7 linked regions of the Homo sapiens genome follow. The protein of the gene in region 1 purifies or fractionates together with the protein of each later gene. This does not show direct contact. Each region holds a gene or a part of one and is shown in the gene's direction. Other genes may lie near its edges. The genes, in order: TMPRSS3, UPK3BL1, TMEM131L, VRK2, GJA1, TOR3A and DHRS7.

Evidence for each region.
Region 2: the proteins of TMPRSS3 (region 1) and UPK3BL1 purify together in Homo sapiens (affinity purification with mass spectrometry; 2 studies listed by BioGRID and IntAct, with this or other methods). This does not show direct contact.
Region 3: the proteins of TMPRSS3 (region 1) and TMEM131L purify together in Homo sapiens (affinity purification with mass spectrometry; one large-scale study listed by BioGRID and IntAct). This does not show direct contact.
Region 4: the proteins of TMPRSS3 (region 1) and VRK2 purify together in Homo sapiens (affinity purification with mass spectrometry; 2 studies listed by BioGRID and IntAct, with this or other methods). This does not show direct contact.
Region 5: the proteins of TMPRSS3 (region 1) and GJA1 purify together in Homo sapiens (affinity purification with mass spectrometry; 2 studies listed by BioGRID and IntAct, with this or other methods). This does not show direct contact.
Region 6: the proteins of TMPRSS3 (region 1) and TOR3A purify together in Homo sapiens (affinity purification with mass spectrometry; 2 studies listed by BioGRID and IntAct, with this or other methods). This does not show direct contact.
Region 7: the proteins of TMPRSS3 (region 1) and DHRS7 purify together in Homo sapiens (affinity purification with mass spectrometry; 2 studies listed by BioGRID and IntAct, with this or other methods). This does not show direct contact.

Annotation. Positions count from the first base shown.
Region 1 is NC_000021.9:42,375,178-42,379,222, reverse strand, and holds part of TMPRSS3 (transmembrane protease serine 3), read left to right. Parts: intron 1-2,536; coding exon of another isoform or gene 2,537-2,539; coding exon 2,540-2,682; intron 2,683-3,354; coding exon 3,355-3,507; intron 3,508-4,045. UniProt on the Homo sapiens protein: Probable serine protease that plays a role in hearing. Acts as a permissive factor for cochlear hair cell survival and activation at the onset of hearing and is required for saccular hair cell survival. Activates ENaC (in vitro).
Region 2 is NC_000007.14:102,639,634-102,644,463, reverse strand, and holds the start of UPK3BL1 (uroplakin-3b-like protein 1 precursor), read left to right. Parts: upstream 1-1,672; 5' UTR 1,673-1,722; coding exon 1,723-1,834; intron 1,835-3,690; coding exon 3,691-3,852; intron 3,853-4,049; coding exon 4,050-4,260; intron 4,261-4,830.
Region 3 is NC_000004.12:153,605,486-153,609,530, forward strand, and holds part of TMEM131L (transmembrane protein 131-like isoform 1 precursor), read left to right. Parts: intron 1-4,045.
Region 4 is NC_000002.12:58,133,380-58,137,424, forward strand, and holds part of VRK2 (serine/threonine-protein kinase VRK2), read left to right. Parts: intron 1-1,761; coding exon 1,762-1,820; intron 1,821-4,045. UniProt on the Homo sapiens protein: Serine/threonine kinase that regulates several signal transduction pathways.
Region 5 is NC_000006.12:121,438,646-121,442,145, forward strand, and holds part of GJA1 (gap junction alpha-1 protein), read left to right. Parts: intron 1-3,500. UniProt on the Homo sapiens protein: Gap junction protein that acts as a regulator of bladder capacity. A gap junction consists of a cluster of closely packed pairs of transmembrane channels, the connexons, through which materials of low MW diffuse from one cell to a neighboring cell.
Region 6 is NC_000001.11:179,084,666-179,088,710, forward strand, and holds part of TOR3A (torsin-3A precursor), read left to right. Parts: intron 1-962; coding exon 963-1,228; intron 1,229-3,245; coding exon 3,246-3,424; intron 3,425-4,045.
Region 7 is NC_000014.9:60,155,189-60,159,233, reverse strand, and holds part of DHRS7 (dehydrogenase/reductase SDR family member 7 isoform 1 precursor), read left to right. Parts: intron 1-3,081; coding exon 3,082-3,234; intron 3,235-4,045. UniProt on the Homo sapiens protein: NADPH-dependent oxidoreductase which catalyzes the reduction of a variety of compounds bearing carbonyl groups including steroids, retinoids and xenobiotics.

The DNA of each region.
Region 1 (4,045 bases):
GACCCTGTCTCTACAAAAAATTAAAAAAATTAGCCTGGGCCGGGTGCAGTGGTTCATGCCTGTAATCCCAGCACTTTGGGAGGCCGAGGCAAGTGGACCATTTGAGGTTCAGGAGTTTGAGACCAGCTTGGCCAATGTGGTGAGACCCTGTCTCTACTAAAAATACAAAAATTAGCCAGGCATGGTGGCGCACACCTGTAATCCCAGCTATTCAGGAGACTGAGGCTGTAGAATCACTTGAACCTAGGAGGCGGAGGTTGCAGTGAGCCGAGATCATGCCACTCCACTCCAGCTTGGGTGACAGAGCAAGGCTCCATCTCAAAACAAACAAACAAACAAACAAACAAACAAAAATTAGCCTGACATGGTGGTCCCAGCTACTCAGGAGGCTGGGGTGGGATTGCTTGAGCCCAGGAATTCTAAGCTGCAGTGAGCCGTGATCATGCCATCATACTCCATCCTGGGTGACAGAGTGAGACTTTGCGTTTAAAAAAACAAAACAAAACAAAAAAAAAGTGGAGATTTATTTCCACACGCAGTTGAGGTGTCTGTAGGGTGGTTTTCCTGGAGGCTCTGACCCCTTTCCTTTGGGTTCTGGTGGCGGCGGCTGCAGCTGCACTGGCATTCCTGGGCTTGTAGCTGGATCTCCAGCCTCAGCCTCCTTCCTCCCGTGGCTTTGCCCCCTGTGTCTCTGTATCTCAAACTTCCCTCTCCTGTGTCTTATAAGGACAGCAAGTCGTTGGATTTAGGGTCCACCCTAAACGCTGGGAGATCTTATGTTGAGATTCTTACCTTAATTACATCTGCAAAGACCCTGTTCCAAATAAGGTTGGGCTCCATAGTGGCAGGTAGGCATATTTTGGAGGGGCCCACAGTTCAACCTAACACAGGAATTTCAGTGTTTTCCACTCAACACCAATTACTTGAGCCCACCCCCAGCTGAAGGCACCCAGGAGCTAACCCGGATGCTTCGAGTCTGTGGGCCTACTTACCCCCCACCCACTGGCAGTGCTGCCCACCTGGCCGAGGGCACTCACAGCTCTCTGTAGTTTCCAACCCACCCACATGGCCCAGGCCCAGTTCTGTGCCAGTGTGGCTGGTCCAGGGCCTTTCTAGCTTCATCAGAACCAGCACCCCTGGTGTGTGGTGGGAGCTGGGACACCAATCTACGCTCCCCTTCCTCTCATGGTGGGCTCTCATTCCGGACCAACCAGCCCACCAGAGTCATTCTGATGACACTGGGCTCTGAAGAGGAGGCTGTGCAACAGCTTCATCCTCCCAGGAGATTCTCCATCCCGCTGCCGATTTTCTTCTCGCTGTCAATCTGCTCTGTCCAGTGCAAAAGGTCCGACGAGCCCCTGTCCTGATGTAGCTTCAGCTCCAGCCTGTCCTGGAATCTTCTCCCATAATGCATTGAGCTGTTTCGCCACGTTCCGGGCAGGAAGCTGAGTGTCTTGTGATACCATGTGCTCCTCAGAGCAGCCCCTCAGGGTCCTGTCATTGTGTGATTTTGTTGTCTCCATGGAATCTATGGAGTCTTTAAAACACCAAGATGCCTGGGTCACAAACCAGCTGAGTTGGAGGGGTCCATCCCTCGGTGTCGGGGGCGTGCTTGGCCCACTGCACGTGGATTAAGTCTCCTGTGACTGTTGCAACAAACGACCCCAAATTCGTGGCTTAAAATGACAGAAAGGTATCATCTCATAGTTAGGAAGGTCACAGGTCCAAACTCAGTCTCAGGGCGCTGGCGTCAAGTGTGGGCTGTGCTGGCTCCTCCTGGAGGCCCTTGGGGAATCTGTCTCCTGCCTTTCCCAGCGTCTGCACTCTGCCCACACTGCTTGGCTCGTGCCCCTCCTTGGTCTTCCGGGGCAGCAATGCCGCATCTTCGAATCTCTCTCTGACTCTCTGACTCTGGTCCCTGCTCTGTCGTCACAGCTTCTCCTCCGGCTCCTCCAAAGACCCCTGTGACTTCGTCAGGTCCACCCTCTTACTTGGGATCATCTCCCCACTCAAGGCCTGTCCCTCAATGCACCTGCAATGTCCCATTTGCCCTGTAAGGTGACACAGTCACAGGTTCTGGGGATTGGGGTGAGAATGTCTTTGGGGTCATTTTTCTGCTGACCATCCCAGAGTTCACAAAGACGCTGAGTGAGTGACCCTCCTGAGCCTCAGTTTCCCTCCCATAACCTGGGGTGTTCTGATGGCTGATTGGGCTGGTGCCCTGGGGAGGTGTCTTGGCCACTGTTGCCCCTACTCCTCCTCCTCTTTGGACACCTTAGGGGAGTCGGTGGCCCTGCCTTGAAGCAGACTGGCCCCTTGCGGCCACTCGTAGGAGGGCAAGCTCGGGCTTGAGGTGCTTCGAGACAGTGGGAGTCTGCTCGTCCCACCCGCAGGGCCCTGTCCTTTTCCGCTGTTGCGACACACCAGAGAGCATCCCCCTCGTCCCTCGTTCCCTCACCCCCCTGGTCTCAGCATGCGCCTTCTGTGTTTTGGGCCGGGCTTCCTTCTCACACACATCCCCTCACTCACTTTGAAGCAGGTGACGCCTCCCCTGTCCTGAACCACGCGGCCGTCCCTTTGATTTCCAACAAGATCTGCAACCACAGGGACGTGTACGGTGGCATCATCTCCCCCTCCATGCTCTGCGCGGGCTACCTGACGGGTGGCGTGGACAGCTGCCAGGTACGGGGCCGCAGCGGTGGGCGAGGCCGTGGCAGGGTGACCCAGCCCTTGGGACAGGTCGTTGCCAGCGTTTCCCTGTGACAGGACAAAAAGTAAATTTACAGGGCGTGGAGAAGAAATTTGCTCAAGATATCACTCCTTTTCCTGGCTGCCAGCCCTGTGTTTACCCAGTGATCTGGCTCTGCGTGGGTGCTGGGTGGTGGGAGGGGACTCATGCTGCTCCCCTCCAATTCTGACTTTGTGGGGGACCACAGGGGAGGCAGGTGGTGGGGAGGCAGGTGGCGGGGAACCAGTGAATCTGGCCCTCCGAAAGCTGCAGTGGCTGGGACTCCAGTTCTACTAGGTGGATCACAGGTCACCTGAGGGCCCTGGCCAGGTGGACCCTCCCTCTCACCAGCTGCCCTTGAGCTTCAGAGGGTCAGGGTCTGCATTCTGGAAGGGACACACAGCTGGAGGCAGCACCCCAAAGGGGCCGAGGGACATCCTCCCTTGGGGATGCTGTGTCTGGAAGGGCTGGTGGGTTCCCTTCTGTAACCTGGGTCATCCATTGGGACATCATGAAGGGGGGTCCCAACTCCATAGCAAGCAGCCTCACACGGCAGACTGTCCACAGAAAGCAATCTCGCATGGCGGTGACTGTCCCCCAATCTTTGCTTCTTTCCTGTCACCCAGGGGGACAGCGGGGGGCCCCTGGTGTGTCAAGAGAGGAGGCTGTGGAAGTTAGTGGGAGCGACCAGCTTTGGCATCGGCTGCGCAGAGGTGAACAAGCCTGGGGTGTACACCCGTGTCACCTCCTTCCTGGACTGGATCCACGAGCAGATGGAGGTGGGTGCGGCGCCCTCCCCAGCTCACGTTGTCCCTGGCTTTTGACCCTAAGGTCCCTTAAATGCAACCCTGGTCTTGCTATAAAAACCAGGGCGTGACCCAGTGGTTGTCAATTCAGCAGCAGTGACTTGGTGGCTCCAGGGTGTCAGACGCTTGTGCTGAAAACAGAGATCACAGCTAGTCCTGGGCAGCTCTGGGTGGGTGCAGCCTGGCAGGCAGAGGAGCTGGGGCCCGGGAGGAAGAAGGAGCCTCACGACATGGGAAAGGAGGAGGCAGCGAGGAGGAGCCCCTGCTGGGATGGGGATGGGTCGGGCGTGCCCCGTGTGCCAGGAGCAGGGAGAAAGTGGGAGGGGGCGGGGGGCTGAGACAGTGCGGGAGAGGACCTTGCCTGCCTGCTGAGGGGCTGGAACCTCGCTGGGAGCCAGGGATGAGAGGCAGCAGTCAGGAGAGGCTTGGGGAGCTCTGCATTGGTGGTGTGGGGGGGTGGGGGGTCCCGGAGGGGGAGGCGTGGAAGTGGGAGGGGCCTGCAGGGGGGCAC
Region 2 (4,830 bases), on another chromosome or scaffold:
ACCACTGCGCCCGGCCAGAAGTTTTTCTTGTGAGTTGAGGTGAACATCTGAATCCCCTCGGGGAACTGAGGTATGTCCCCTTCAGGGAATGGTCCCTCTTCATCCAAAAATGGGGCCCACAGGTGATAATCTGTTGGGTTTCCCAGAATGAAGACATCTGGCATAATTAGAGCGTGAAGGTCAGGCTGACGGGGGCTAGCACCCCGATCCAGGGGAGAGGTGGTCACAGGTCTCGCTCCACCTGCCCTGAGCCCCATCTCATCTTTTTTTTTTTTTTTTTTTTTTGAGGGGGAGTTTCACTCTTGTTGCCCAGGCTGGAATGCAGTGGTGCGATCTCGGCTCATTGCAACCTCTGCCTCCTGGGTTCAAGTGGTTCTCCTGCCTCAGCCTCCTGCGTAGCTGGAGTTACAAGAACAAGCCACCACGTCCAGCTAATTTTGTATTTTTAGTAGAGATGGGGTTTCGCCGTGTTGGCCAGGCTGGTCTCGAACTCCTGACCTCAGGTGATCCACCCACCTCGGCCTCTCAAAATGCTGGGATTACAGGCGTGAGCCACCATGCCTGGACTTCCATCTGGTAATTTTCTGTCTCGAGGAGGAACTACCCTGCCCTGACAGAGGCTGGGGATGAAGGAGGAAGAGACAGCCGGTCCCCTGGATAAAGAGGTGAGGGGGTGTGAAGTCTGGGAGCCCCCCTCCCAGGGCCAGGCTACAGGGGGACAGCAGGGCTATACCAGGAGTGCCACAGAGATGCATTTGGGTGTGATCTAATCCCCAGTCCTGCCCTGACCTCCTGGGTGCTCTTAGCCAAGCCCTCTTCCCTGTGTGTGCTAGAAAGTGAGGGTCACTCCCTTCCACACAAGGGAGTGAATTGAGGGTGGGGATCTGAGCTCTCTGAGCAGCAAAGCTGGACACAGGCCAAATTGCCAATCCTGAGTCCCTCTGTCATGTGGACCTGGGAAGCTTGTCCTCATCCTCCATCCTTCCCCAGGGTGGGGCCTGAGAATCTGAGAACCTTGAGCCTGGGAGGTCAAGGCCACAGTGAGCTATGATCGCACCACTGCACTCCAGCCTGGGCGAAAGAGTGAGACCCTGCCCCCCCCAAAAAAAAATAATAATAAATAAAAGAGACTCCAGGGAGTTTGCTTGAGCGGCACTCCCTATGAACCAAAAACAGACACCAACTCCTCCTAGGTTGGTTTTTTGTTTTTTGTTTTTTGTTTTTTTTTTTTGAGGCAGGGTCCCACTCTGTCATCCAGGCTGGAGTGCAGTGGTGCCATCTTGGCTCACTGCAGCCTCAACCTCCCAGGCTCGAGTGATCCTCCCACCTCAGGTCCTAAAGGAAGAGTCGCTACATTGGGGACTGTTTGGACAAGGAGATCCACGGGGTAGACTTAGCGGGATTGTCCCTGGGGCAGCCTGGATCCTGAGGCTGCCCCGCCTCCTTCCTCAGCCCCTCCCTGGTCAGGCGCTCCTGGTGGGTGGGGGGGGTAGTCCAGGCTTGTCTTGCAACTGTATGTTCTCTTCAGACCCCTCCCTGGCGATGCCAGATTCACTGGGCTGGCAGATTCTGCCCCCAAACCTGTCCAACCAGTTGTTTGAGAGGAGGGGGTAGCTGGGAGGGGCAGCAGGAGATGCCAGGAACAGCTTCCCCTAGCACAGCACAGACTACAGACAGGGGAGCCTCTGGGGCTGCAGACACTGCAGACGGACGGACAGACAGATGGACAACAGCTGGAGGCTTGGCCCGGCCATAGGGCTCTCTGCGGGACAGTCCCAGCTGCTAGTGTCGCTGTTGCTGCTACTGACCCGTGTCCAGCCTGGGACAGACGTGGGTGAGTAAGGGTGGGGATTGGCACAGGGGTACCCGCTGCATCTCAGGCTGCAGGACAAACCCAAGACCTCACTTTGTTTCCAAATTCTCACACATGGCTCCTGCCTCCTTCCTTTCCCTGAGGAGAGGTTTCCAGATGTCCAGGACAATGCATGTCCCCAGGAAGCTCTGGTAAGCCCAGCCTGGGCAACATAACAAGACCCCTTTTTTCAAAAAGATTTTTTTTTTTAAGATTTTTGTTTTTAATTAGCTGGGTGTGGTGGAGTGCACCTGTAATCCCAGCTACTTGGGAGACTGAGGCGGGAGGATGGCTTGAGCCCATGCAGTGAACTATGAATGCGCCACTGCACTCCAGCCTGGGCCAAACAGCAAGACCCTGTCTCAAAAAAGAAAAGAAAAGAAAAACTGGACAGGCTGAGAGATACAGTCCTACAATCTCTGCCCCCAACCCCAATCTCTGACTGCTCCGCTTCTCTTTTTCTTTTTCTTTTTCTTTTTTTTCTTTCTTTTTTTTTTTTTTTCGAGACAGAGTCTCCCACTGTCACCCAGGCTGGAGTACAGTGGCGCGATCTCAGCTCACCACAACCTCCGCCTCTCGGGTTCAAGCAATTCTCCTGCCTCAGCCTCCTGAGTAGCTGAGATTACAGCCGTGCGCCACTATGTCTGGCTAATTTTTGTATTTTTAGTAGAAACAGGGTTTCACCATATTGGCCAGTCTGGTCTCGAACTCCTGACCTCGTGATATGCCCGCCTTAGTCTCCCAAAGTGCTGGGATTACAGACGTGAGCCACCGCGCCCGGCCTCCACTTCTCTTTCTAAACATTACGTGCCTCCTGCACGCAGAGTGCCCTGGGCTTCAGAGATAGGACTGAGAGCTGTAAGAAAGGAATCGTGACAATCCTTCCCCAAGGAAGACTCTAGCCTGAACCTTTGGAGTTGAGTTGAATTCAACGTAAATGAATGAAGTTGAACTGAACTGAACTGAACAGGGGCAGCTGCTGGAGACTCACATAGAAACCCACTCCATCGTTCTGCTTCTCCTAGACCAGTATTTGGGGTTGGGGAGGTCTGAGCTCTCCAACCAGCAAGGCTGGACACAGGCCAAGTTGCCAATCCTGAGTCCCCTTTGGGGTACAGACCTGGGAAGCTTGTCCTCGTCCCCCACCCTTCCCCAGAGAGATGAGGTGGGAGTCTGAGAGGGGGACCTGGTCCTGAAGGCGAAGATGCCTCGGGGCCATGTTGGGAGGCGGCAGAGAACCAGGCAGGTTGAAGAGGACGTTCTAGACTCACTCGGAACCAAGCTCTGGCTCCAGAGCCCCCGGACCCTCTGGGCAGTCTGTGTCCCAGCCTGGGGTCTCAGCCAAGAGGACCTTCCTGTGCCATCCCCCCGACCCCTGCCAAGCCACGCATCCTCTCATCAAGCAAAACAACCTAGACCATGTGGGTGGAGCTGGAGGGACTTAAGTTGGAGGTCACTGGGCATGTCAGGAACAGAGTTCAGCCTAGGGTCAGGCTGCCCCCAAATTCCAGTTCCATCCCAACATGGCCCGGCCCAGGAGAACTGTGCCTACCGCCAGGGTGGGACCTCCCATGCCACCATTGTCCTAGACCTCCCACAGTGCCCACCCCCAGTAGGCTCCTAAGAGAGGGGCCAGGGGCTGGACTCAGGCCTCCCACCCATGCCCATGGGGCATAGAGTTGCCGGGAAAGCTTCCTGGTTCATACCGGACCTGACCTCCCAGGAAGTGCCCGTAACTTGGGGCTCCCATGTTAAGTCTGGATCTGGGCGGGGGGAGACCAGAGCTGTTGGGGCTTGGTTGCCCCATTTGGACTCTCCTCTCTGCCCTCCCCTTCCAGCTGCCCCAGAGCACATCAGCTATGTGCCCCAGCTCTCAAACGACACCTTGGCGGGGAGGCTCACCCTGTCCACCTTCACGCTGGAGCAGCCTCTAGGCCAGTTCAGCAGCCACAACATCTCTGACTTGGATACCATCTGGCTGGTGGTGGCCCTCAGCAACGGTGGGTGCTGCTGGGGCCAGGCTTCGGTTTTCCCTATGTGAAATGGGCCTGCGGGCCTAAGGGCAGTAGCGGGTGTGTTGCAGGGAGATGCAGGGAGCAGGTGCTGCAGGGGATGGGGCCGGGGAGGGCTGTCAGGCTTGGTAAGGTGAGGGTGGGATCCTGCTGTGTGACCTGTCTGACCATGGTGCCACCCTTAGCCACCCAGAGCTTCACGGCCCCACGGACAAACCAGGACATCCCTGCTCCTGCCAACTTCTCCCAGAGGGGCTACTATCTCACACTGAGGGCCAACCGGGTGCTGTACCAGACCAGAGGCCAGCTCCATGTCCTCCGCGTCGGCAATGATACCCACTGCCAACCAACAAAAATTGGCTGCAACCATCCCCTACCAGGACCCGGCCCCTACAGGTGAGCAGCTCTGCCAGGCCCTGGCTCCTGCCCGCATGCACCCAAGCCGGAGCCTGGGGCAGCTCCTACGAGGCTCACCAGGGCCCCAGCAGGATGCCTGGGTCCCCTGCTCCTGCTTGGCCAAAGGGAAGAGGAAGCAGCAGGCAGGGGCTAGGGAGGCCTTCATGAATTACATGAATTATCCTTCTTCTCTTTTTTTTTTTTTTCCTTTTCTTCTTCTTCTTTTTTTTTTTTTTTTTTGTTTTGTTTTTTGAGATGGAGTCTTGCTCTGTGACCCAGGCTGGAGTACAGTGGGGTGATCTCGGCTCACTGCAACCTGTGCCTCCCGGGTTCAAGCGATTCTCCAGCCTCAGCCTAACGAGTAGCTGGAATTACAGGCATCTGACACCACACCCGACTACTTTTTGTATTTTTAGTAGAGACAGGGTTTCGCCATGTTGGCCAGGTACCTGCCACCATGCCTGGCTAATTTTTGTAATTTTAGTAGAGATGAGGTTTCACCATGTTGGCCAGGCGGGTCTCAACTCCTGGCTTCAAGTGATCTTGAAGGCCCACCTTGGCCTCCCAAAG
Region 3 (4,045 bases), on another chromosome or scaffold:
GCCTCCTGAGTAGCTGGGACTACGGGCACATGCCATCATGCCCAACTAATTTTTGTACTGTTTTGTAGAGATGGGGTTTCACCATGTTAGCCAGGCTGAGCTCGAGCAATCTGCCTGCCTTGGCCTCCTAAAATGCTGGGATTACAAGCGTGAGCCACTGCTCCCAGCCTATGGTCAGATTTTTGACAATTTTTAATCTGGAAAACTCAGTCACCTTTTGTCTTATTTGAAGCATCTAAATATAACTTCATCTTTTTCACTTCTTGATATTGGAGAAGAGGTACAGAAATATTATGGATTGACTACTTCTGATGAGCTTTTATGCATTTGGTGAAAATCCTCAACTGAATTTTAAATGTTCTGTATAAGGACATTTCTAATTTAAAAGAAAGTTGGAGTCCTCTGAGGGGAATGTGGTCTAGGCAGCTGCACACATGCATTCTTGGTGCATTTAGTCCAACCCGTTTGTACCGTTTCCCCTGGCAGTGGTGCACACGCCTGAAGTGGACTTATGTCTGCAGGGTGGACACTGTGCCCTGTCTCCTCCACCTGGCGTGTGAGTATGCCCCCTGGTAATGCAGTTCACCCAGATCTTCAAATCAAACCATGGCATACCTTGTCTGTGGATGTATTATGATGGGGTGATTGGGTGTCTTATTCTGTTTCTCTCCCAGACACTCTCTGGGGTCTAGAATACAAAACATTTGTGAAAAGGTGAATTATGGAGTGAGTCCTGTTGGACATTTCCCCTGTTACGTGAGTCTTTTAGGCTTGAGCACAGTCTTTGACATAGGATGACTTTGCACACACTTGAAATTAGAGTTGAGGGAATCCTCCCTCCAGAAGTGCTTCTTCTGTGATCGCTTGTGCCCACAAGAGATATGTGCCTGCAAGATGCAATGCCCGTGGCAGTGTGGTAGATGGATGGGAGGGACCTTCTATATCTTAATACTTTAAAGCAGTTGAAATATAAAGGCATGGATGAGAAATGTAGTGTCAGAGTAGGTCAGAGGATTTGAATTCTTCTTCAGGATCCTCCTGTCTAGTACTTGACATTCAATGCCAATAGCTGAGCCAAGATGAGCAGGTAATAACACTTTAATAAGCGTGAGTAAATTTAATATGGGAGTCTGGAAACATAGAGTTTGCCTGTATCATTGTAGATGGTAAACCTGCCCAGAATCTTTCCTTCCTGTACAGATTACTAGTATGCTTATAATGTTTTAAATGGCAACAAATCTTTCACTGCCAGAATTTAAAAATACTGTTTGGCTGGATCAGCAGCATGTTAAGTGGTACCAGAGTGATTGTTGATCAGATCAAGTAAGAGCTGAGGAAAGAACTTTTGCTTTCCACCATGTTCAGACCAGCAAATTCAGAGGTGCTAATTCACAGTCCTCTACGTGTCTGCAGAAGTTATATGTTAGCAGGAGATTCCTCCCAGGGAAGTTTGTACATGGACATGCATTTTGTTCTGACTGTTTTATGTTCACAGCACTGTCCTGGGAAAATATCCGAGATGTTAAAAAGTGAATAAATTGCCTGCTATCCATGTACAATTTAAAATTGTTCAAGAATTTTAAATATTAAAAATAAGAAAGGACTGAAAAATCTAGGGAAAGATAATTATAGTCTGAAGGGAGGGTTTGGAGTTTTTTTAGTAATATTAAGGGTTTGGGGCTCTGTTGAATTTCAGAGGAAAGCATTGCAATAACTTGGCAAATGATAAACGCGTATAATTGACAGGTAAGTCACAAGTGCAAAGAATGCTTGAGAATGAGAAAAGCATATATATAAGAACCTTTAAGTTTTTACTTCCAGCTTTGAGCATTAGTTCTTTGCTAGCTTTGAAAAGTATTTTACTTTGTGAAATGTGTGCTGTTTCCATTGTAAGATCTTTTCTAGAATCTGAAGAAAACAGCTTGGTCTTTGAGCTGGACTCAACCTGCCTGATAGCTGAGAATCCTAAGTGCCAGTCACGTTGTCTCCTGTGTGACTGGCAGTTAGGATTCCAGCAGAATGGGAACTCACTCAGTGTGTTTGCCACATTTTAGCCATTTCTCCCAAAGTATACAAATGGTCTGTAGAAACCATTCTAGTCATAAGATTGCCTTTAAAGGGAAAAAGGGAAAGGTGGGGACAGTCCCGCCTCTTAAGAATACCTTAAGTGATTTTCCTAACTATCAGAACTCCTGGAGGCACCTGAATAATCTGCCTTCTCCTATTCTGAGGCTTCCCCCCACCCCCGGGTGTAGCTTATTGTGTGAGAAGAAAATGTTCTAGGGTATGTATGAATGGCTTTGACTACATACTTGCCATCAAGAAACATAATATTTTGTAAGTAATAGAAAATGTGTCATATTTGGGAGGCCGTGATGGGCAGATCACTTGAGCCCAGGAGTTCCAGGCCAGCCTGGGCAACCTGGTGAAACTCCATCTCTACCCAAAGAAGTATATGTATATGTATAGTAGCCAAATGTAGCCAGGCATGGTGGTACATGAGCATGGGCCTGTGGTCCCAGCTACTTGGGAGGCTGAGGTGGGAGAATCACTTGAACCCAGGAGGTCAAGGCTGCAGTGAGCTGTGATTGTGCCACCGCACTCCAGCCTGGGCAATGAGTGAGACCCTGTCTCAAAAATAAAAGCAAAAACAAAAAATGAAAAAAAAAATGTGTCCCTTTTCTACTCCATTTCCCCTGCCTGCTTCGGAGAGGCCTGTAGTAAATAATTAATTAAAATTCTCAATAGAAATAAAGTCTGCTGACATTCTTTAGGGCTCTGTTTTTCTACACTTGTTTTTTGGCATCAACTTGTCAAACAACTATCAAACAGTTAAACTTGTCAAACATTCGTTATACGTTCCAGAACCTCTTGGTCATCTGACAAGAGTGGGGCTTTATGTGTAATGTAAATGATCTTGTGAATATAGCTCTTTTTAAATGTTTGTAACCATTTTCACTGTCTGATCAAAATAATGTAGATTAGAGTTATGGCTAAAGACAAGCTATGGTTGGCCGCAGCACTACCAAGGAGAAATAGTGAGCAAATTATTTCACGGGTTTCTACCTGTAATAATGTAAAGGTATAATTAAATTTGATAATAGCTCAAGCCTTGAGCTTAACAGTACCTGAAAGTTTTCACTGAATTACATTCCTCACCTTTCTGAAATTATTGGTATTTGCAGAAATTCCAAAAATGTTCCTATTTACTTACAGATACTATTAACTTGAAATGAAGATTTAATGGTTTATTCAAAACAGACCACGTGATTGTGATTAGATTTGAGACAGTACAACTTTAAGCAGGTTACTGAGGAGATCACTTGTGTCTTGTTCTTCCATTTGTTTCTGTTTTTTAACCACTTTTAAAAGGAATTACTGACCTATAAAGCTGTACATACTTAATGTATGCATCTTGATGAGTTTGGGAATAAGTGTACATCGTGAAACCATTACCACCGTGAAGGGCATTAACATGTGCACCTCCCAACGTCTTCTCCTGCCCCCTTTATTATTATTAGTGTTCTTTCCATTTGTTTTTGATTTTTAACTGTGGTACACTCTTACTCAGTGAGGTCATGGGGAAGTTGCACACTTAATAGGATGACTTGGTGTATTAGGCTGTTTTTCACTGCCATAAAGAAATACCAGAGACTGGATAATTTATAAAGAGGTTTAATTGGCTCACAGTTCTGTGGGCTGTACAGGCTTCTGCTTCTGGGGAGACCTTAGGAAACACAGTTATGGTGGAGGGGTAAAGGGGAAGCAAGCACGTCTTGCATGGTGGGAGCAGGAGGAAGAGAGAGTGAAGGGGGAAGTGCTACACACTTTTAAACAACTAAATCTCGTGAGAACTCTCTCACTATCATGAGAACAGCCAGGGAGAAGTCAGCCCCCATGATCCAGTCACCTCCCACCAGGCCCCTCCTCCAACATTGAGGATTACAATTTGACATGAGATTTGGGTGGGGACACAGAACCAAACCATATTGCATGGATTGACCCCATTTGTAAATGACGTATGTGTTTGGTATCCCATATTCTT
Region 4 (4,045 bases), on another chromosome or scaffold:
CAATATCATATTATGAAGTTTATAATTCAGATAAACCATAGACATTTTCAAACTTATTATAGTACATAATACATAATCATAATTTATTCAACTTGCTGAGAAGGTATGACACTGAAATTCCCCATAAGGGTGTGATTGTATATTCAGCCAAGACACTGTATCTCCCTTATGCCTTTTATTTTCCTGACATAGCATGCTGCTGGATCAATGTGTGTATTGTTGCTACTCTGCCTATGCCAGAGGTGGTGACTCACTCACACATATAAATAATTTTAGTTGAATGTTTTTATAGGTTGTGTATTCCTTACTTGAAAGGCTTGGGACCAGAAGTGTTGCAGATTTCAGATATTTTTAGATTTTGGAATATTTGCATTATACTTACCAGTTGAGCATCCCACAAACCTGTTTAATCATGGGACAGCATAAAATATTGCCCAGTGGAGAACAATGCACATATATACTTAGATACAATGTTTGCGTGAATTTTTTATTGTTGTTTTTGAGAAAAAAAATCATGGTAAATATTACTACTTCTGTGTTTCTGCATACATAAACTTTGAGTTAAAGCATTTATATTATAATTCCTGTAATTCCATCTTGTTTAGTATTGGGGCCCAGAGAGCAATACCCCAAAGTGTGATGCTTTGGCATGCTGAGACCTTTGAACTGAAAGAGACTGGATGGCCCCAGAAGCCACCTCAGAAGCCAAGTCTCACTCTGACCTTCTCCTGCCCTCTTGTTTCCCATCCCTTCTCCTCCCAAGAAGAGAGTCATAGAAACCAGAATTCCTCTTCCCCAAAGCGGGTTATAGAAACTAGAACCCCTGTACCCCAAGCAAGGCATTAAACTTAGGAAGGTCACCCTCTCCCTTCTCCCTTTAAGACCCTCATTCCAAAGGGGTCCTGCCCCATCCCCAGGAGGAATAAATGCTACATACATCAAGAATATGGGGCCGGGCGCGGTGGCTCACGCCTGTAATCCCAGCACTTTGGGAGGCCGAGGCGGGTGGATCATGAGGTCAGGAGATCGAGACCATCCTGGCTAACAAGGTGAAACCCCGTCTCTACTAAAAATACAAAAAATTAGCCGGGCGCGGTGGCGGGCGCCTGTAGTCCCAGCTACTCGGGAGGCTGAGGCAGGAGAATGGCGTGAACCCGGGAAGCGGAGCTTGCAGTGAGCCGAGATTGCGCCACTGCAGTCCGCAGTCCGGCCTGGGCGACAGAGCGAGACTCCGTCTCAAAAAAAAAAAAAAAAAAAAGAATATGGACAGGCTTTGCTGGATCCCCCCGCCCCAGTTCAGTACCATTAGAACATACCCTTTTGTCCAGTCACATTCCTACACAGCTGTCTATTCTTCATCAAACCTAAGCATAAAGATAGACTTCCTTGGGTCTTTGGTCTTCATTTCTCAAGTCGTGTCATATAAAACTTTAATTAAATAAATTTGTTATACTTTCTCCTGTTAACTGGTCTTTTGTTATAGGAATGTTGGCTGCAACCCTTATGGTGGGTGAGAAAAGAGATCACACCTTTCTGCCCCTACGTTAGTCTAGGTTATTGATATAAAATTAGTTTGTGGGCATTGAGGGTTCTCCTCTACTTCTGCTTACTTTCCTATCCATTATAGTTGGGTGACAAAAAAAAAAGCATTGAAAGTCACAATTTTGGTGACCTACCAACACATAGAGTGTTTTGTTTTCTAGTCAAAATAATCACAGGGTTGAAAACATGTTCATTGTGCATTACCTTATTTTGTTTTAGTCTGTTGGACGAGCTCCCCCAGTCAGTGCTTAAATGGGCTCCTTCTGGAAGCAGTTGCTGTAAGTCAAATAATAACTTCAACCTTCTCTTACGATTTACAGGTTGCCACATTTGTCGTTATCGTTTGGTAGCTTTTGCTTAACCCACTTGCTCCTATTCCCATCAGGGTGGGAAGGAGGGAACTCTTCATGTTGCAAATAAGTTGCTAAAGAACACAATGTTTAAATCATCTTTAACATTAGAACACAAAAAACCTCAAAAGAAGATATTGAGGTGGAAAATTCTAGGTTCTGCTTAGTGCTTTTTTTTTTTTTTTTAAGATCTCTATTTTGAGAATCATGCACAGGCTTAATAGTCAACCGTATCTGGTATTTCTAGAGTTAAGACTTCCTGGTTTTGTTCCTCTATATATTGTTGAAAGAAGATAAAGTTGACCTAAGGAAAAACTACTTTTCATCAGTCATTTAAAAAACCAAATCAGTAAACACTGAATGCTGTTTAGACCAGAATTATGCTGACTGAACTGCCAGCAAAAAAAAATTTTTATTAGCAAAGGCATATGATTTTGGGATTTGGAGGTATATTTCATATTTTCAAGTTAGTATACAATGGAATTTTTAATTGACAATGTTATCAATACATATTGTATAAAATAGCACGTCAACTAGTAATTACCCACATTCCTGTCATTTTATGTGCATACACAACATGTTATTCAACACTAATTTAACAATTGAGTTAGACTGTCTTATACGAAAAAGCCAGTGCCCACTATCAGTCTTGCTTTTTTTCAGAGACAGATAATCAGAGTGAATCTTGTTTTCTGTTTACACTGGACAATCTCAAAGTTAGCTTTGAGCTGACTTCTGAAAGTAGATATGTACACTGACCTCTCTAGCTAAGGTCTAATAGCATCTGTTTCCATCTGGTTGAGAATTAGAGAGTTAAGTCATCTTAAACTTACATTCACAGCCTTTCTTTCACTGGAAACCAAAATTTTCATTTGTGGAGGAAAGGAAAGAATAAGCCAGTTCTACTTCCCCTCTCCATTTGCAAGTCCAATAAGCCTATCCCCACATGAGTCTTTTGTTTTCCCCTTTCTCTAGTACTTTTCATCGGATTGAGGGAGCCACACAGGAGAGATCCTCATTGTGGGAATGGGTTGCAAGATGAAATTTTTGTTTTCATAATTGTCAATAACTTGGTCAAAATGGCAGTACTCCTTTATGGCTAATATTCTTAATGGCATTTTTTTTTTTTTTGAGACAGAGTCTCGCTCTGTCACCCAGGCTGGAGTGCAGTGGCACGATCTCGGCTCAGTGCAACCTCCCCTTCCTAGGTTCAAGCGATTCTTCTGCCTCAGCTTCCCAAGTAGCTGTGACTACAGACACGTGCCACGATGCCCAGCTACTTTTTGTATTTTTAGTAGAGACAGGGTTTCACCATATTGGCCAGGCCTGGTCTCAAACTCCTGACCTCGTGATCCCCCCCACCTTGCCCTCCCAAAGTGCTGGGATTACAGGTGTGGGCCACTGCGCCTGGCCCTTATTGGCACTTTTACCAAGTTGTATAGTTCATCTTTTAATCAACTGGACAGAAAGATGGGAAGATGTCATTAACATATATATATATCATATATATGTGTATATATATCATATATATGTGTATATATATCATATATGTGTGTATATATATCATATATATTATATCATATATATGTGTATATATATCATATATTATATCATATATATGTGTATATATATCATATATATATCATATATGTGTATATATCATATATATTATATATCATATATGTGTATATATATCATATATTATATATCATATATATGTGTATATATCATATATATTATATATATCTCATATGTGTATATATATCATATATAATATATATGTGTATATATCATATATCATATATAACATATATATGTGTATATATCATATATATAACATATATCATATATGTGTATATATCATATATCATATATATCATGTGTTTATATATATCATATATCATATATATCATATATGATACATATATATCTCATATATGATACATATATATCATATGATACATATATATCATATATATGATATATATGATATATATGTGTTTGTATATATATCTCTTACCTTTCTTGTCAATCCTGCAGAAAAAGGAACTGTTCAGTTTAGGGTAAGAAAGCCCAGATGCCCTGAATTGTACAAGACAAATGCTTGTGGGCAGTGTATATTATGTCATACTCTATTGTTAAAGATTTGAGTC
Region 5 (3,500 bases), on another chromosome or scaffold:
TTATTTGAAGAGATGTGTGGGAGCTTATCCGCACACACCAGTTCAACTCTGGAGAGAAAAAGTAATTATCTAGTGTTTATTATTAATGTAATATTCTGTATGGATAATTCAAGTTTTAAAAAATCTCCAGAGCATCTCTTCCATGGGAGATTAATGTATATATTTTTTAAATTCTTAGCATAATTGTCTAAACCTCCATCTAAAGTCACCTTTTAACTATGTATGTACAGATTGTCTTTTACCTATTTTCAAACTGTGGTTAGCTCTTTTTTTTTAATACATCAGTGGCTTATACAATTTCATAAATTTCACATTCCAATTTCCCTATGCTTTTAAAATAATATTTTAAGAAAAATATATGTTTATCGTCAGCTGGGCATGATGGCTCATGCCTGTAATCCTAGCCCTTTGAGAGGCTGAGGTGGGAGGATCGCTTGGGGCCAGGAGTTTAAAACCAGCCTGAGCAACATAGCAAGACCCCACCTCTATAAAAAAAAATTTTAAAAAGAAAATGTATGTTTGTCAATCATTTCTTAGTTGCTGTTTTGCTAAAGAAAAGATGAAAAATTTAAAACCAAATGAGCTATATCTAAAGGTCGTCTAAAGAGTAAGAACCAAACTTTACTGAGCTGTTACTAAGAGCATCACATGCATGAGTTATTTATTAAATTCTCATTGAAAAAAATAGACTATCTTAATCAATACACTTGTGAGGGCCCTAAGGGTGTCTTTATATGATTATAAAATAACAAGGCTATTCACTAAAAATAGTCAATTTGGAGGTGGAAGTAAGAGTAGGGGCAGAGGAAACGCCAAGGACTGATAGAAATATATTAAGTTACATCACAATTGAAGAACATGGCTTTTAGCCTCAGCTTCTGACTTGGGATTTTCTCTCTGGTAGCCCTAAATTGATCTTGAGAAACTTGTTTTGGGGGAGAATTGAGTAGTAGCTGTTGAACTAGGGAGAGGATTGTCTTTTATGGGATGCACCATCCTCTCTTTGGATGGAGTTCCTCACACCTCAATTCCCATCTCATCTCATTAAGTGGATGCTAATGTAAGTTCAGTGATGAGGAGGGGTAAGAGCTGGGGAAGGAAGGCTTGTTGGTGTTTTTATGTTGTCCTCCCCTCTGCCCCCAAAATAAGCAGTTCACAACATCAAATACCTACACAAATGTGCAATTATTTATAAATATATTTTTACATACAGTAAGTTTGATACACTATAGTTAGGCCATCTAGGTATAAATAAGGAAGTAAAGGTTGGGTATTATCTGATGAACTGGGAATCTTTTCCATGGTACTTGAATCTAATCACTTTAGTGCCTGCATAGACTCAGACTGTAAAGATGTTACATTAACCAGGGTTAATATCAACTGCTGCTCTTCCCCTTCAGAGCCCTAGCCTTCCCCGATATTTATCATTCTTGAAATAAACACGATTTTAAACAGGCTATTTCTTCTTGTAATAGTGTCCTTGTCTACAATAAAATTGTGTGGTGCAATCGGAGTTAGAACATCGTAGAACTAGGGGACAACCACACAGTTGTGTTTTTTCCTTTTTTTTTTTGTTTTGTGTTTTAAATCTTAACCTGCAACAACCTAACAGTGAACTGAATGTACAAGCATGATACCTGATGCAGTTCTACAAGAATCCTAACCCTCATTAGGATCTCATTTAACAAATTCAGGAAGCTCTTTGTTAAAAAGCCTTTTTTCTTTTTTCTTTTAAGCCTGTCAAATTTAGCAGTGGGGGTTGCAAAGAGCCTTTTTTCTTAATTTAGCTCTTTTGCCTGCTCAGGAATCATTTGAAGCATGTTGTTTCAACAAACAGTTCTCTGTTTCAGCAATTGTCACTTGAAAATTTAACAGTATGAGAATGAGATGATGACAATAGTTTTTTACTGTGAAGTTTCCTTTTTAATTAATTTGAAACTTTAGAAATTTGAGATATAACTACAATTAAGAGAATCCCAAAGAGACAGAAAAAAACAAACTTTTTTTTTTTTTTTGCACAGTATCTTTCTATTTTTTGTGGAAGCCCCATTTAATTCATTTAACATGTAGCTATACCCCAATTAATTAATTCTTTTCTTTTCTTTTCTTTTTTTGAGACGGAGTTTCACTCTATCACCCGGGTTGGAGTGCAGTGGTGTGATCTCTGCTCACTGCAGCCTCCGCCTCCCGGGTTCAAGCAATTCTCCTGCCTCAGCCTCCAGAGTAGCTGGGATTACAGGCACCCGCCACCACGCCTGGCTACTTTTTTGTTGTTGTTGTTGTTGTTGTTGTTGTTGTTTGTCGTTTTTTTCTTTGAGACGGAGTCTCGCTCTGTCGCCCAGGCTGGAGTGCAGTGGCGCGATCCCGGCTCACTGCAAGCTCCGCCTCCCGGGTTCACGCCATTCTCCTGCCTCAGCCTCCCGAGTAGCTGGGACTACAGGTGCCCGCCACCACGCCCGGCTAATTTTTTTGTATTTTTTTTATTTTTAGTAGAGACGGGGTTTCACTGTGTTAGCCAGGATGGTCTCTATCTCCTAACCTCGTGATCCGCCCGCCTCGGCCTCCCAAAGTGCTGGGACTACAGGCTTAAGCCACCGCACCCGGTCTACTTTTTTGTGTTTTTAGTAGAGATGGGATTTCACTATGTTGGCCAGGCTGATCTCAAACTCTTGACCTCAGATGATCCTCCCACCTCGGCCTCCCAAAGTGCTGGAATTACAGGTGTGAGCCACATCTCTTACTCTTTCAAGCACTGGGGATACAGCAGTGAACAAAGCAAACTCCCTCGTATTGTTCACATTCCAGTTAAGGAAGACAAATAATAAATCCTTCTCATGGAAGGAGGTACATAGTAATCAGGCAAATATTTACTATATCAAGTAGAGAGAAAGTCTATTAAAATAATAATTTTTTAAAAACCAGGGCAAAGGGAATAGGAAATGACAGGACTGGGGAAAGGATGTTGCTATTTCATATTTGGTGGTCAGGAAAGTTGGCTGATGAGGTGAGACCTGCAACAAGTGAGGACGTGAGCTGCGTGGATGGAGCAGAGCTCATCAAACCAAGCTGATTGTTGGTTTGTTTTCTCAAGATTGACTGATTACTCGGAGTATAGGTTGGCAAGTAGGGTGACCAGGCTAATGACATGAAACCTAGCAAACTGATGATGGCTGAGATCAAGCTAAGGGTGGCTGTTTTAAGTGCGGAGGAATAGACAACTGAGTTCACTCAATGACATTTACTGGAGGGGCAGAGGTTATTATAAAAGTGAAAGAAAACATTACAAGGGTTTGCATTTGAGTTTTTGGGCATGAATATTTTTGGGTGTTAGTACATTAGACACACACATGATTTCCCTTTCCTCCCAAAAAATCCATTAAATGATTTTATCGGGAACTTCCATAGACATTTCCTTATGTAGGTTTAGACTCTGATTTTATTCTTTCAGATATTAAAGTCCTTCACCTTCTCTTTTCTTTCAATCATAAAAAGATGCTGGA
Region 6 (4,045 bases), on another chromosome or scaffold:
GCAATGTGTGATGCCCTCAATGTTTTATCATAGACCTTGACCTCCCAAGGCTCCAGAATACCTGCTCTGGGCTGGCTTAAGGTGTTCAACCAATTGATCCTGGATTTGGAATGCTCACCCACAGCTGGCCGCACACCCTGCCTGTCTGCACTGTGGCTCCTGGTAGCGCCATCTCCAAATCCTACAACCTCACGTCTGACAGGAGGAAGTTAGACCTAGCAGAAGGCTTTGCACACTGGAGCTGCTCTCACCAAGTGTTGGCTGAATTGAATGAGAATGAATAAAATCAGGCTTCTCCATAAAACAGGGAGCCCTGAAACCAAGGGATGGGAGCAGCCTCAGGACATGGGGGACAGGGTTCCTCCCTAGACAGGTCTGTGCCAACTGTTCTGGGTATCTGCAGGATCTTTAGGAAGGGTGATTCCACTCTCCCTGAGTCCCATCTTGATTTCCCAAACTCTTCAAAAAGTAGTCCTTGAGGCTGGGCGCAATGGCTCACGCCTGTAATCCCAGCACTTTGGGAGGCCGAGGTGGGCGGATCTCGAGGTCAGGAGTTCAAGACCAGCCTAGCCAACCTGGTGAAACCCGTCTCTACTAAAAATACAAAAATTAGCTGGGTATGGTGGTGGGCACCTGTAATCCCAGCCACTCGGGAGGCTGAGGCAGGAGAATCGCTTGAACCAGGGAGGCGGAGGTTGCAGTGAGCTGAGATTGCGCCACTGCACTCCAGCCTGGTGACAGAGCAAGACTCCATCTCAAAAAAAAAAAAAAAAAGAAAGTAGTCCTTGAATCCCTTCTGCTACAAAGTCTGCCCTCTGGCTTCTTATTCTAAGGCCAAACAGGAGGAGTAACTGATTCCACCCGAGAGAGATTCAGAGTTGCTTGGTTTCTTGGCTGTTGGCTGTTGTGGTGGATGGGCCTGTGTGTGCCTTTTGCTGTGACTACCTCTTTCCTGTCCTTAGGCTTAGAGTGGGACCTGAATGTGCGGCTGCATGGCCAGCATTTGGTCCAGCAGCTGGTCCTAAGAACAGTGAGGGGCTACTTAGAGACGCCCCAGCCAGAAAAGGCCCTTGCTCTGTCGTTCCACGGCTGGTCTGGCACAGGCAAGAACTTCGTGGCACGGATGCTGGTGGAGAACCTGTATCGGGACGGGCTGATGAGTGACTGTGTCAGGATGTTCATCGCCACGTTCCACTTTCCTCACCCCAAATATGTGGACCTGTACAAGGTGAGGCCGACCAGGGCTGGGGTGAGGCCTCTGTGCTGGGAGGGAGACCCTTCTGCCAGCCCTTCCTTGCAAGGAAATGGGCTCTGGAGAAGCCTGGGGAGGTGGGGACAGGTGGCAGAACCTGTGACAGAGCCACTCCGTCCACTCCTCACAGAGGCCCTTAGCATGTGGAAGAGACTGGCGTTCCAAACACCACCCCCTGCTCTGTCCCCAAACAGCCACACTCGAGAGGCTGGACACTGCGCTTAAGCAGGGACGCTGCATGTTGATTTTTGTTGTAGAAGTAGTGAAATGTCACAGACTGCAGTGTAGAACAGAGAAAAGCAAAAACTGTCAGACTCTCCACACGGACACACCCTTGTCAGCTAAGGAGAGGTAGCATTTTATGTGCTGCCTTTGGTGCGGAACCTTTCCCCAGGCTCTTTGTCATTGTAACTACGTTGGACAGAAAGTTGTATATCCTGCCTTTTTAAAATTTAAACAGGCCTATTGGCCGGACATGGTGGCTCACGCCTGTAATCCCAGCACTTTGGGAAGCCTAGGTGGGTGGATCACGAGGTCAGGAGATCGAGACCATCCTGGCTAACACGGTGAAACCCCGTCTCTACTAAAAATACAAAAACTTAGCTGGGCGTGGTGGCGGGCACCTGTAGTCTCAGCTACTCGGGAGGCTGAGGCCGGAGAATGGCGTGAACCCGGGAGGCGGAGCTTGCAGTGAGCCGAGATCGTGCCGCTGCACTCCAGCCTGGGCAACAGAGCAAGACTCCATCTCAAAAAAAAAAAAAAAAAAGAAAACAGGCCTATCCTATCTTACCTGATTTTTTCATGTCTTCCCGTATCAGCTTATTATATACCAGCAAGTGGATGGACAGAAATTTCCTTGGCTGTTCTGCCATTTTGGGTTTCTTCTACTAATTCAGCCATGTAGTATTGAAAACATACCAGAAGAGCCTGACAGAATTGACTGCACCTGTCTTTGGCTTTGTTTTAATATTTGGAATGTGTTCACCTGGGAAGATTATGTCAGCGTCTGAGGACAGAGGCTGCCCGCGTCTCCTGGCAGTTTCCATATGGCTTTGGAGGGCAGGGGCAGGCTGAGCTGGGCCTTTCCGGGCAGAACTGTCTGGCTTAGACTGTGGCAAGACTGCTGCAGCCCCAGCTTCCCTGCTGTGAAAACTGGCATGTGCATAGCCCTGCACCTCACACTTTCCCCCACAAAGGTGCACCCAGTAGACAGGGAGTGTGGGCTCTGGAGTGGGAGCTGGCCCTGAATAATATATTCCCTGCCCATTTCGATGAACATTGCAAAGAACCATCTTTTCACTTGAGGGTTTACTGTCTTGCCTGGGGCAAGGAACCCTCCACAGCTTGCAGGAGCCAAGTTGGATGTTGGTTAGGCCCAGTCAGTCCTTCAGCAGGCTTGCTCCCCTGAGATCTCGGCCCAGCCAGGGTGCCAGTGGGCGCTCTGCACCCGGGAGTTCAGGGCAGGGGACTGTGGCTGCCTCTGGGCACATGAGCCTCTCTTTGCCCATCACCCCTGTATGAAAGCTCAACTCCTATCCACCCCCTGGGAATAGACCCTGAGCTTAAACAGGGAAGTTGCGCCTGGATGTTTTTGTTGTAGAAGTAATGAAAGTTTGCGGGTGTGTGGACATTGTTAGCTCCTGGATGGGATGTAGTCCTGGAGAGGAGAGAGCAGGGCTGGAGCAGGGGCCCCTTCTCAAGGGCAGAAGGGCTTCTCCCCACTCCTTTCTAGGCTGTCTCCTAGTCCCCAAGCTGGCTTCACCTTGTTTAGCTTTCAACCCTCAGGGTGCTTGAGAATCACCTGGGAGCTGGTCAGATGCAAATGTCCTAGGCCCTCCCCAAGAGCTTGGATTTGATAGGTTCTGGCGGGGGGCGGGGGGTGGGGAACCCAGCCCCAGGGGGTCCATTGCACATGCCCAGGGGAAACCACGCCCTCAAGGCCGGAGGTGGAAGGAGTCACCACTTCCCCAGCTGCTCCCTATATCCCGTGCAGGAGCAGCTGATGAGCCAGATCCGGGAGACGCAGCAGCTCTGCCACCAGACCCTGTTCATCTTCGATGAAGCGGAGAAGCTGCACCCAGGGCTGCTGGAGGTCCTTGGGCCACACTTAGAACGCCGGGCCCCTGAGGGCCACAGGGCTGAGTCTCCATGGACTATCTTTCTGTTTCTCAGGTGGGTTCTGGGGAACAATAGTCAGGAGGGCTGGGGGAGGGGAAGATACTAGCTGGCAGTGGAGGCTTCCACACGCCCCCAGGTTCAGAACCTTTCCTCAAGAAAAAACAGCACAAACTCTGGTACAGAAAGCAGCAGCCAGCTGTGGTAGCTCACGCCTGTAATCCCAGCACTTTGGGAGGCCAAGGCGGCCGGGTCCCTTGAGTCCAGGAGTTCAAGACCAGCCTGGGCAACATAGTGAAACCCCATCTCTACAAAAAATATAAAAATTAGCTGGGCGTGGTGACATGTGCCTGTAGTCCCAGCTACTCGGGAGGCTGAGGTGGGAGAATCGCTTGAACCCAGGAGGTGGGGGTTGCAGTGAGCTGAGATCGGGCCACTGCACTCCAATCTGGGTGACAGATTTTTTGAAACAAATTCCCAAGGCAAGCCTGGTTAGAGAACGGCATAGTCTCCCATCAAGTCCAACACGGCCATTTCTTCCTTCAGCCTTGGAAGTCTGTTTCTTCTCCGATTATGAGAAGTCATCACTGGCTTAAAATCCAGGGTATACGGGTTGAGAAACCCATGCTTCCTCTGAGTACCTGTAGTTCAGTTGTGACGCTACCATGCGGGACCCAG
Region 7 (4,045 bases), on another chromosome or scaffold:
TTAGCTTGAGATTTTCTTCCGTAACCGCATCTCCTCTGACAGGGAGATCTTGAAGTGTATGTTGGGGTTCCAACACTTGATTAATAAGCTGTGTTTTTCCCTCCAATTCCAAATGATTTTCAGCATCAACTGCATCCATGTCAATATTTGTCGTCTTGGGTAACAAACTTTTGGGCCTTGGATACAAAATCCTTGATGAATGTTTGAGGTGCTGGGAGAGGAAGGGATGGGGAGGATGCCTCAGGCTGGACACTTGGACCCACCGACACCAGAAGTTTGATTTCTTCTTTGTCAAACCACAAGGCAGGATTACTGCCCACTGCTACTGGTTGATAGCATTTAAAAGCTTATCATATCAGTATAAAAAAGATCCCTGGAATGATTAGACTTTCCCAAAAAAGGAGCTGAAGCCTTCAGAGATAATTAGCTTCCTCATCCTGTGAGGGAATTAGAGATGGGTCAAGGGCTTGAGAAGAGAATTCTCAAACTGGAGTGGGGGTTGAACTATCACTTTCCTTTCAACTCTTAAGAATCTACTTTCAGGGGCTCTTAAAGGGAGGCCATTATGTATACCAGATTCTGTGGAATCGGGAAACAAACGGTGCTAAATAAAAAAGTTTCTTCAGGGTGGGAGGAAGAGGCCAGAATTGTGATTGTATTAAAAGTTTACACCATCAGCTTTAAATATTTGCTTATGTGTGTAAATATCAAGAGGTCTTTGTTAGCTCGACACTAGTTAGTAAATCCTGTGTTTCTAAAACAAATGATATTCACTCTAGAGTGTGATGATTGCAGAACTTGGGAACAACAAGTAGTCAATGAATGAATAAATGATTATCTGAATAGATGTTATGTTGTTCTTGATAAAGTCCTATAGGAAGGTGGCCCAATTGTGCCTTTTCACAAAAGTACGTTATATGACAGGAAAGCATTGTAGCCCAGACATAGTATTTGGGATGTTTCCATCCTTAGTTGAGATTTTTTTTTTTTTTTTTTTTTTTCCGACAGAGTCTCACTCTGTCACCCATGCTGGAGTGCAGTGGAGCAATCTTGGCTCACTGCAACCTCTGCCTCCCAGGTTCAAGCAATTCTTGCACCTCAGCCTCCTGAGTAGTTGGGGTTACAACGATGCGCCACCACACCTGGCTAATTTTTGTATTTTTCATAGAGAACAGGTTCCATCATGTTGGCCAGGCTGGTCTCGAACTCCTGGCCTCAAGTGATCTGCCCGCCTTGGCCTCCCAAAGTGCTGGGATTACAGATGTGAGCCACCGTACCTGGCCTTAGTTGAGATATTTACATGGAACCTTTTTCTTAAGGACAAGTGGTATTTTCTTGAATGTCTAAGAAACAGTTGGGTTTTAAAATATTGATCATATGTAAATGTGTATATCATGAAATAGTGGACAGTGTGGGCTTTGGAGCTAGATATACCTGGGCTTATATCCCGGCTCTGCCAGGGTTCTTGGGTGTTTATTCAGTAGTTATTTATGGAGCCTTTTCAATATTCCAGTCTTTGCTAAGCACTGAGGCCACAGCAATGAACAAGGTAGACAGGGTCCTACCCTTAATGGAATCTATGGTCTAGTGGGACAAATTAATCTCTGTAAACCTCAGTTACCTTTTCTGTAAAACTGAGATAATAATACCTTTCCATACAGTTCTGGTGAGGCTTTTAGTAGACAATGTGCTAAGTACATAGGAAGTAATGTAAAAACGTTAAGCCATTAGAATTGGTAACTCTGTTTTCCTGGCTGGAGAAGTTAGGAGACATACGTTATTAAGTGACTGTTCTATGTTTTGCTGTAGTAAAGTCCATCTGTTAAAAAACTTGAGCAATAATTATAATTGACGTTTATTAAACACTGAGTATGTACTAGATACTGCCCTGAGTGCTTTCCATGTTTTAACTCATTTCTCAACAATCCTGTGAAGGATGTGTTCTTATTCATCACATTTCCAGTTGTGGAAAATTAAGGCACCAAGTTCTCACCTGGGAGCATTTCAGTGCTGTGTGTGATGGAGCTGGCATTTGAACCCTGGCAGTCTCCAGGGATGGTACTGTTAACATCACAGTTAGGATTTAGAGCTGTTTAAAACAGTACAATCATTTCCTGATTTTAACTTTTCTGATCTAAAATCGGAAATGTGATGTTAAGTGATACGATATTTGATATTTTTGATAAATAACATATATTTTAGTAAATAAGTCACCCAGGAACTTTGCATAACAGTGACTTTACGGGTTCAGAGAGACAGTGAATATCATCTCCTGAAGTGCTAATAAGTTTTTCATTGGAGAAAAGAATAAACCATTTGTCATTGCTTTAGTACTGTAACATTTGTAGTCTTTTAAGAGGAACATAATTGGAGAAGCAGAGTACAATATTTCATCTCTCTGTAATATGCATTTGTTCTTGGGTGAATTACTATATTCTCCTAAGATGAAAGCTCAGGCATCTGGGGAACATTTTTACAAAATGACCTTGAGCTGATAGGCATCAGGCATTATTGGCAAATGGGGAAAATACTACTTTAAAAATCTAGGATGTTTCCATCAACAGCACAGAACTTGGTATATTTAGATTCTTCATCAACCTCCATTGCAAAATATTAGAATAATAGAATTAAAAACTGGATGTGACCTTCAGCCATCATCTAATCTGAATGCCTCATTTAATGGCTAAGGAAAAGTGAGTCCAGACAGTGATTTTTGTATTTACTTAGCCTGTTTATCTTATCTATCATATTTATCTTACCTGTTTGTGTTAAATAGAGCCTTAGAGTGAAACCATGAGGTTATAAGGCTTACCTTGAAGTAAAGTCTGGAAAAGTCATGAAGGTTCTGTAATATACAAATACTGTGTTGATAACTGTTACTAGTATGATTTGTATTAATGCTTTTTTTTTTTTTTAGTTAAGAAGGAGATGCTTTCTTAGAATATTTCAAATTTTAACTCTATACATCATGCCTTCATATTTAGTGGTATTGTTTAAGGCTTTCTTTTTTTTTTCTAATCTTGGATTTATGAGCGTAATTCATTGCTTATTTTCTTCCTTCCATTTACATTCCTTCCATAGAATGGGAGCTGACTGATATGGTGGTGTGGGTGACTGGAGCCTCGAGTGGAATTGGTGAGGAGCTGGCTTACCAGTTGTCTAAACTAGGAGTTTCTCTTGTGCTGTCAGCCAGAAGAGTGCATGAGCTGGAAAGGGTGAAAAGAAGATGCCTAGGTAAGCGGATCTGAAATAGCAGCGGTGCTTCCTAGAAATAAATCAGTCCAAACTCAAATACAGTTTTGGGACTTTTAGAGAGGAGTGAGATTTCCCCCCGGCTCCAAATGTTCTACATGCTTCATCTCAGTTCCTCTCCTTTTTGCCTTAATTGGCTGCCCTCGCCTTTTTCTTCTTTTCTGCCACCTTTCTATGCTTTTTTTGCACTGACTCTTGGCATTAGGGAGTGACCAACAATTATATAAAATGCTGGTGGATTTTTAGTGACCAAGTATCTTAGATTTTTGTCTTAGAGAAAAAACAGTTGGGTTCTTATCCATGACATACATGTATCTGATCATAGAAATTAGGAAGAATCCTTACTCATTTTATTAAAGTATCAGATATTAAAATCATATGGGATAAGACTTATTATATAGGATAAAAGAACAGGAATGGAATTAGCTTTAAAAAATACAACTTGAGGTAATACTTTCATATTCACATAAAGGGCAACAGTGTTAATATTTTTGTTTGAATTTTGGTGTAGTTATGTTTACTTTTTTCTTTTTGAGATGAAGTCTCACTTTGTTGCCCAGGCTGGAGTACAATGGTGTGATCTTGGCTCATTGCAACTTCCGCCTCACAGGTTCAAGCGATTCTTGTACCTCAGCCTCCTGAGTAGCTGGGGCCACAGACGTGCACCACCACACCCAGCTAATTTTTGTATTTTTAATGGAGACGGGGTTTCACCATGTTGGCCATGCTGGTCTCGACCTCCTGACCTCAGGTGATCTGCCTGCCTCGGCCTCCCAAAATGCTGGGATTACAG